3 linked regions of the Homo sapiens genome follow. The protein of the gene in region 1 interacts with the protein of each later gene in a pairwise test. Each region holds a gene or a part of one and is shown in the gene's direction. Other genes may lie near its edges. The genes, in order: MORN3, ZNF76 and SOX5.

The links.
Region 2: the proteins of MORN3 (region 1) and ZNF76 interact in binary tests that used the Homo sapiens proteins (3 or more experiments, as listed by UniProt).
Region 3: the proteins of MORN3 (region 1) and SOX5 interact in binary tests that used the Homo sapiens proteins (3 or more experiments, as listed by UniProt).

What each region holds. Positions count from the first base shown.
Region 1 is NC_000012.12:121,648,242-121,650,448, reverse strand, and holds the end of MORN3 (MORN repeat-containing protein 3), read left to right. Parts: 3' UTR 1-1,707; downstream 1,708-2,207. UniProt on the Homo sapiens protein: Assembles a suppression complex (suppresome) by tethering SIRT1 and MDM2 to regulate composite modifications of p53/TP53.
Region 2 is NC_000006.12:35,290,495-35,293,609, forward strand, and holds part of ZNF76 (zinc finger protein 76), read left to right. Parts: intron 1-146; coding exon 147-222; intron 223-783; coding exon 784-909; intron 910-1,063; coding exon 1,064-1,243; intron 1,244-2,045; coding exon of another isoform or gene 2,046-2,059; coding exon 2,060-2,293; intron 2,294-2,386; coding exon 2,387-2,550; intron 2,551-3,115. UniProt on the Homo sapiens protein: May be involved in transcriptional regulation.
Region 3 is NC_000012.12:23,543,996-23,547,735, reverse strand, and holds part of SOX5 (transcription factor SOX-5), read left to right. Parts: intron 1-1,311; coding exon 1,312-1,420; intron 1,421-3,740.

The sequences.
Region 1 (2,207 bases):
GTTCAAGCGATTATCCTGCCTCAGCCTCCCAAGTAGCTGGGATTACAGGCACCTGCCACCAAGGCTAATTTTTTGTATTTTTAGTAGAGACAGGGTTTCACCATGTTGGCCAGGACGGTCTCGATCTCCTGACCTCGTGATCTGCCCGCCTTGGACTCCCAAAGTGCTGGGATTACAGGTGTGAGCCACTGCTCCCAGCCAAGATCAGATGTTCTTGCATAATGGGCAGGTGAGCTCTGGAGTCACAGTGCCTGGGCGTGAATCTCGGAGCTGTGTGTTCTCAGGAATGTCACCCAAACTCTGTTCTGTTGGTCTCCTCACTTGCAATATGGGGCATTAACAGTACTTACCACCTGGGGTTACTGTGGTTAGTTACTGTGAGGATGAGATAAGGCGGTGGTTTTAAACTGTGGGTAGGATTTTGTCCTCCCTCAGCCCCACTCTTTCTTGGGGACATTTGGCAATGTATGACATTTTTGATGTCACAACAGGCAGGAAGAAGGCTACTGGCATTGAGTGAGTAGAGACCAGGGATGCGGTTAAGCATAGTGCAATATCACCATGCTACAAAAAAAAAAAAAAAAAAGAATTCAGCACCTGTAATCCCAACTACTTGGGAGGCTGAGGCAGGAGAATTGCTTGAACCTGGGTGGCAGAGGTTGCAGTGAGCCGAGATTGCGCCATTGCACTCCAGCCTGGGCGACAGAGCGAGACACCATCTCCAAAAAAAAAAAAAAAAAAAATGTTGAGAAACCCTGAAATACCACGATTCTAGCTAAGACCTCAGCAAGAGGCACATAGCACATAGTAAAGCCTCAATAAACACCACTGACCTTACTGAGGTTCTCTCTGCCCCCTAAGTCATAAGTAGGGTGGCCTCACCAAGGGTGTGGTTCTCAGTCTGTACCTCTGGCACTGGGAAGCCCCGCCTGGCCACCCTAGGATGCAGAATTAATCATAACTTCCAGATATGGAGCACTCACTCTATTCCAGGCCGTGTGCTGACAGCTTCGCAGCAAGCATTCTCTCCTGGCACTCCCCGACAACAGTGAGGTGTCTTGCTATTACTGCCATTTTAGAGGAGGAAACAGGTTCAGGGAGGATCACAAGTCATCAAGCTAGTACTGTGCTTAAACTTAGGTCTAGCTGTTCTTAATGTGCAGAAGAGTGTAAAGGGTTACCATTTTTAAAGAAAAAGTGGGGGCAGGGCATGGTGGCTCATGCCTGTAATCCTAGCACTTTGAGAGGCCGAGGCAGGCGGATCAAGAGGTCAGGAGTTCGAGACCAGCCTGACCAACATGGTGAAACCCTGTCTCTACTAAAAATACAAAAATTAGCTGGGTGTGGTGGAGTGCATCTATAATCCCAGCTACTCAGGAGGCTGAGGCAGGAGAATCACTTGAACCCAGGAGGCGGAGGTAGTGGTGAGCCAAGATCACGCCGAGCCGAGATCGTGCCGCTGCTCTCCAGCCTGGGCAACAGAGCGAGACTCCATCTCAAAAAAAAAAAAAATGTTGGAAGAGGGTGTGCTTGTTTATGTACAAAATGTCGCTAGATTTAAACACAATAAACTGGCAAAGATGGTTGTCTCTGGGGAGAATTGGGGACTTGGGAACAGGAGCTGAAGAACAACTTTTCAGTGTTGTGTTTGGAACCATGTGAATGTATTATGTATTCAAAATGTAAATAAAAATGAAGTTAAAGAGACTGTGCTCCTAACTAGGAGTGTTTGTCTAAGTTGCCTGGGTGTGAGAGCACCTGGGGTGCTTGTTAGAAATAGATTCCAAAGACACACCCAGACCTACTTAAATCAGAATCCTCCAAGGGCTTCGAAACCTGCATTTGACAAGCCTGGCTGATGAGTCGAGTCCCGGCCAGTTTAGGAACAAGAACCCAAGACAACAGGATCCTAGCCCAGAAATAATTCCAGCTGGATCTTGCATCCCTACAGAAGTAGGGAGGTGGCTGTCCTAGGGGAATACGTAAAAGATGTCCAGGACGGCCGGGTGCGGTAGCTCACGCCTGTAATCCCAGCACTTTGGGAGGCTGAGGCAGGTGGATCACCTGAGGTCAGGAGTTGGAAACCAGCCTGGCCAGTGTGGTGAAAGCCCATCTCTGCTAAAAATACAAAAATTAGCCGGGCGTGGTGGCTCATGCCTGTAGTCCCAGCTACTCGGGAGGCCGAGGCAGGAGAATCCCTTGAACCC
Region 2 (3,115 bases), on another chromosome or scaffold:
AAATGAGGGTACACAGGAATGCCAGCACAGAGCGCTTGACACACATGAATGGTACAGGAGGGAAGAGAATCAGGGTCCTAAAGAAAACCAAAGAGCCCTGGTCATACCCTTGCTCCTCTGAATTATGTGATTGCTTGTCCTCACAGGTGCATGAACGAGCTCATACAGGTGACCGTCCATACAGATGTGACTTCCCCAGCTGTGGAAAGGCCTTTGCCACAGGTAACCTGCCTGGTGGGCTGCTTCCAGTTGAGGGTGGAGGGTTCTCGTTCTGTTTGGGACCTCTCTGAAGGGAACCCAACACCAGGCTGCTTTCCTGGAGAAACTACCGTCAGAGTACTCTGACTTGCAGGGTGCTCTCTCTGGAGGAAACCTTGTTACGGGAGTGCAAGGCAGCATGGTTCAGGCCAGCAGAAGGAGCCTGGAGGGTTGGTGGAGAGACCCAGCCTCTTGTGTCAGCTCTGATGCCAACCAGCTGTGGATTATTGGGTGGGCCATTGCATCTCTCTGGGCTTATTTTCCCCTCTGTGAAACTAGTACCTTTAGCCATGAGTTCTCTAAGTTTCTTTTCATGCTCATGTTCTGGTATGGCTCCAACTGCTCCTGGAGAGGGAAGCAGGGCAGAGTGGGCTTTTCCAGCCCCTGCCCAGGGCAGGGGTGGGATAGAGGCAGACATGGGCTTCTTGAGCCAAAGGAGGTGGAGAGCCTGTGCATGAGGTGGACGGTGGAGGATGAGACCCCACTGGGTGCTCATCTCACCCCCTGCCTGCCACATATGGACAGGCTATGGACTGAAGAGCCACGTTCGTACCCACACTGGTGAGAAACCATACAAGTGCCCAGAGGAGCTGTGCAGCAAGGCCTTCAAGACCTCAGGAGACCTGCAGAAGCATGTCCGTACCCACACTGGTATGCTGGGCCCTGCCCACTCCAACCCCATTCCCTGGGCAAAAGGAATTCAGCTTGCCTTTCAGACTTAGACCTGGAGCCCAGTGCCATCCCCAGCTTGCTCCAGCATGGCCCTCTTTCCCACACCCCTCCTCACATCCCACCATTTGCATAGGTGAACGCCCGTTCCAGTGCCCTTTTGAGGGCTGTGGCCGCTCCTTCACCACATCTAACATCCGCAAGGTACATGTGCGCACCCACACAGGCGAGAGGCCCTACACCTGCCCGGAGCCCCACTGTGGCCGCGGCTTCACCAGCGCCACCAACTATAAGAATCACGTGCGCATCCACACAGGTGGGCTAGCTGGCATGCGAGGACTACCCTCACTCAGGCCCCAACCCCTCTACTGTAGGCTTCCCATCTAAGACACATTCCCAACTCCCAGCCCAGAACCCTTCTGTGCCAGCCATTCCAGGCTGGTCTGGGGGTAGGGTATCCCCAGAACAACTCTGCTTGCAGTGAGTAATTCCTCAATTTCCAGTTAGGTCCAATCTGAAAGGTATTGCCAGTCCTCTCTGGGGTCCCTCAGCTCCCTACCACCCCTCTACACCCACCCTGAGTTCTCCAACTCTGACTGAACTCTTGAAAAGAGGCCAGGGTCAGGAATGATGGGGAAGAAGCAGAGTGAACTGTCACCTTCAACTCCTCACCTTATCCGCCGTCCATGACTCCTGTGTATCCTCACCCTCCCCAGTGTTATGCCCCTCATCCAGCTTTCTGTGTTGTGTCTCAGCATGTGTGTCCCCTCTTTCCCATCACAACTGATACTTCAGTCATCCTTGCCTCTTGCCTCTGCTGTTCACCATTCTCAACCTCCCACCCTCAACCTTATAAGCCCCAGTGCCCCCTACCAGCCCCTTCACTAGCCCCAGCCTTGCCCTGTCCCCCGTTTCCTTTCCGCCTTGTCTCTGGATTCAGTGGTTCAACACCTGTGTCCTCTCTGTGTTCCACTGGCCATCTTCCCCAACCCTGTCCATTCAGAGTCTCAGGTCTCAGTCCCTCTCCCTCCCTCTGGCTCTCCCTTCACCAACCCTGTCCCTCACCCCTGTCCCCTTAGTTTCCCCCTTGCCAGCCCCAGTTCCCACCCCCCTCACAGCCCAGTGTCCCCAGGGGAGAAGCCATACGTTTGCACGGTGCCAGGCTGCGGGAAACGCTTCACCGAGTACTCGAGCTTGTATAAGCACCACGTGGTGCACACACACTGCAAGCCCTACACCTGCAGCACCTGCGGCAAGACCTACCGGCAGACCTCCACCTTGGCCATGCACAAGCGCAGTGCCCACGGCGAGCTGGAGGCCACGGAGGAGAGCGAGCAGGCCCTCTATGAGCAGCAGCAACTTGAGGGTAAGGGGAGTGGGCAGAGGGTGAGAGTGGGGACAAGCCAGGCCTCCCCATGGCATCTGGTAGCAGATGTCAGCCTTGGCTCTCCTCTCCCAGCCGCCTCTGCAGCCGAGGAGAGTCCGCCACCCAAACGACCCCGGATAGCTTACCTTTCGGAGGTGAAGGAAGAGAGAGATGACATCCCAGCCCAGGTGGCGATGGTGACTGAAGAAGATGGGGCCCCCCAGGTGGCTCTGATCACTCAGGATGGTGCCCAGCAGGTACAGGCCCTGGAGGGCAGAGGTGCCATACTAGCTGGCACTCTCCACTCTCTCTGGGGACTCTGGGAGCCCTGAAGTTCTGACAGCCCCACTGCCACCCAGCTTCTTGTTTAAGTTTTATAGACTTCAGAGGCTGAGGCTGAGGAGACCACATCTTGCAGCACAGCCTCTCCTCCTCCTGTGCTTCCAGCTCAGTCTCTGGGGCTTCTAGAGCACAGTTAGTAGTTTCTCTCTTTACTTGGAGGCTGACAGGTCCTGTTCATCTGAACAGGATATGGGATGTCCTTCTCAAGAGAGGCATGTTCATATAGCAGCCAGAACATGGTATGGGGTCTGAAAGCCTGGGGTCTGGTCCTACTAGTGTACTAGCTAGCTATATAACCTGACCCTTGTCCGTACCCTTGCTAGAAAGTACATCTGTGCTTTCTAGAGTTGTTAGGACACAATCAGGTGGCGACCCTGAGCTGGATACAACAGGGCCCAGAGGCAAAGTGGTGATAAATAGAAGTAGTCAGTGGAATTCTTCTAGTGTGGCCTCTCTTTGCAACCTTGGACCCATTTTGTT
Region 3 (3,740 bases), about 98 Mb from region 1:
TACTGTATTTTATACTGATTGACAATTTAAAAATAGTTTTCTATTAAATAATGTACATAATTTGATGAATAGAGTACAGGAGTTCCAAGGCCACTGACTTAAGAGATTTTTTAATTTAGTATGTACAGTTGTCACATTGTCAGAGACTTCATTGAGATAAAGCATGTACTGTGTTAAGAATTTCAATATCTCATTAGTTCTTGGTGGGAACATTAGTTGGGCCCTTTACCTGTAATACAATTATCTTACATCATTGATTACTTTCTGTGAACATTTTATTGTGTCAATAGCAGTTCTGCAGTGTATGTCGTTCACTAGTATGATTCATGACTATGTTCCTCAGAAAATGAGGTGAATAATTATAAAGAAACTTGAGATAATGTTATGAGATCCAATGGATGCATTTCTTAAAACTGTTTTGGTGCTGTTTGGTACTACATCATCCTCAGAGCAGTGCTGGAGAGTTCACGAGAAAGTTATCAAGTTTCATTATATGCTTTTTCTGTTCCTAAAGTCACCCAGTTTCTTAATTTGACAGTAATGTCTCATATGGTTTAGATTAAGCATTATATTTTTCTTAAAAATAATTTATTTTGAAATGCTATGTTCTCCATGAATGTGAATCGTGCACTGCATGCTTAAACAACTTGATGTCTCTGTAGATCTAATTTTGGTATATTTGTATCTCAAATAATTCGCCAACTCAATATTTTGGCTTAGCAATCCAAATCAAATTGTGGTCCAAGTAGCAGGCACTCACATTGGATGTACAGAGACTTGACAAGCAATTAGCAATGAATATTTAAACGTCTTCATTACCCTTGCATGAGGAATGCAGATGGCATTTGGGAAGATGGCAACCAGAGGGCACTACTGTGAATTATGTTTCTATTATTTGGTCACCTGACTATTGGAAGACTTTCTCTGGGCTTCACGCCACTCCTATACTTCTACTGTCTGGCCAAAAATAAAGCAGACATTCCAAATGTAAAACAGGTTGCTTCCATGAAATTTCTGTGCACATTTTGTAATTTGGGAAGGTTGTCTCCAAGGATCCCGGCATATATCCCTTAGGCATACCAAACCCAAACGCCAAGACTTTATAGGGGTCTATGAGAATCAGAGTTCCTTCAAAAATCGTGCTGATCATCCCCTTAATGACTTCAGGTTAATGTGCTGAACGTAAAAAGGTGAATATATCAACATTGCATCCTTTCCAGGAGTTAATGTATTATATATGTGGCCCAAAAAAAGAAAGTCTTCAAATAATTTTAATTCCTAGACTGATCTCTCATTATAATTTTTTTAAAGGAAAAAACAACACTGGAGAGTCTGACTCAGCAACTGGCAGTTAAACAGAATGAAGAAGGAAAATTTAGCCATGCAATGATGGATTTCAATCTGAGTGGAGATTCTGATGGTTTGTGAAAATTGTTCATACATATTCTAATAATGCAAGAAAGTGTCTAGGTAGTGCCAATTAAAACTGCTAAAAAATAGACTAGACAGCCACCTCATACCTCATCATTACAATAAGAGGTCACATATACTGAGCAGTCCCCATGTGCCAAGCACTCTGCTGAGTGCTTTGCAGAAATCGTCTCATTTAATTCCTAGTCAACCTAGGATAAGTCCCATTGCAGAGAAAGAGCCTGAGCCTCAGGAGTTTTGAAGCATTTTCCCCAGGTCACAGGGCTCTAAGTGTCAGAGGCAAGAATTAAATTCGAGATGGCATGATTCTAAAGCAAATGCTCAAAATGCTTAGCTTCCCAGGCTCAAGTGATCCTCCCACTTTAGCCTCCCAAGTAGCTGGGATTATAGGTGCATGCCAACATGCCCAGCAATTTTGTTTTTTTTTTTTGAGATGAGGACTTACTTACTATGGTGTCCAGGCTGGTCTCAAACTCCTGGGCTCAAGTGATCCTCCCACCTCAGCCTCCCAAAGTGCTAGTTTTATAGGCGTGAGTTACTGCATGCGGCCTCACTTCCCTATTTCTTGTACCCAAAATGAACTTTTTCAGAAATTTGTTTCTATTGGCTCATTTTTTAAGTTTCTATTTGTCAAGCCCTCACCAGAATACATGGCTCAGAGGACATTTCCACGATAGTTTCTTACATTTTGGAACCCTTCTCCCTAGTGCTATGTACTACATAGTCAAGTGTCGGGCCCACTCTCTATAACCTAACTAGAAACCAGCTGCACAGCTTTATGCTCCCTTCTCATAGGCCTTCAGACTTCTGTTTTCTGTATCATCTCTGAACATTCTAAACATCCACAGTGAGAAGAAATTAAATTGATACTCTGATTTTTAATAGCGTAGCAAAGAGGGAAAAAGAAGGAAGTGCTGTTCTTCTTATACAATACCCTGACCGGGAACATCTCTCTACTGTCAGGTGGCATCCATGCATTTTAAGCATTCCTTTGGCAGTACCGCCCTCAACTTTGTTACTACTACAGGGAAGTTCCCTGCATATAGAGAAGAGTGCACAAAGGCAAACCAGTGAGATGCATACTTTGAGAGGGGGTCCCCTTGAATCCTCCAATATACACAACTGTTTACTCTGTGCCTTGGGCCAATTCTACTTTTAAGACCAGGTCTATACTAATCAAGGGACTAAACAAACCTGAACGTTGAAACACGTAATTCTATCAAAACTGAATTTTACTCAATTGGATTCAATTTGCATTTTTCTGGGTCTAATGTTGCAAACATTTTCTTCTATTTTCAGCTCCACTTAGCTAAGATAAACCTAGCCTATGTACATTTAAAGAGCTTGTTTAGATTTGATGAAGACACATAATGTTCATTTTATTGCTTATGTTGCTGTAAGGTGTAAGAACAAGAAAAGGCAGATGTGCAAATGATCACTTGCTAGTTACAAACCCATTTTAGGAAGATGTTGCCATATATTTGCACTTATTTTGTCAATAAAAGACAATTACGGGTAATAACACATTTCATAAATTTTAAGTTGTATTAGCATGATAAAATATACCCACAGTAATCAGCATTAACACATCAAAGTTTTTGTTGCTGTCATTACCTAAATTCAATCATGCTTGTATGTGAAATATTTTCTACTTTTCATTAAATCAAAGAGCATGTTATTAATGAAAAATATTGAGAAACTTCACCAACAGGTATGCTATGTTTTGAATGTGCTGCTATAGAGGTCTTCAAGTTTGGGCAATTTTGTTTGATTCCTGTGTCTCCAAATTTAAAAATAAAGAAAAGATGAGGAATGAATACAAAGCAAGAAAAGAAAAGCAGTGCTTTTGTTGATAATACAGTCTCTACAAGTCCCCAAAGTATTTTTAAAGTTTTGGATACTATCAAAATACATCTACTTATTTTGTGATAATACCCAGTGAAAACCTACTGTCAGAGTTCTACTGGTTCTCCTTATTTTCTCTTTGCCTAAACTCAAGTATCTTGGAAGCAATTTAATCTGCTGAAGCCATTCTAAGGGGTCACATAAGGCTGGAGGAGTGAATGCAGCTTCCAAAGCTATCGTTGTTAACTCTTGAATTGTGTTTTATCATCTGTGAATCTTACTGATTGAAATGTGACTGTCCATGGGACTCTTTGGATAACTTTAAATATTAGGGGGAAAATTCAAAGGAAATTATTATTTTTCTCATCTTAAACATGTGACTGTAGACTCCTTAAGAAACTAGAGGAATGTAACTGTTCATTTGTTCTTTTCCATACCAGTTTTACATATATTTTGGGGGGCAG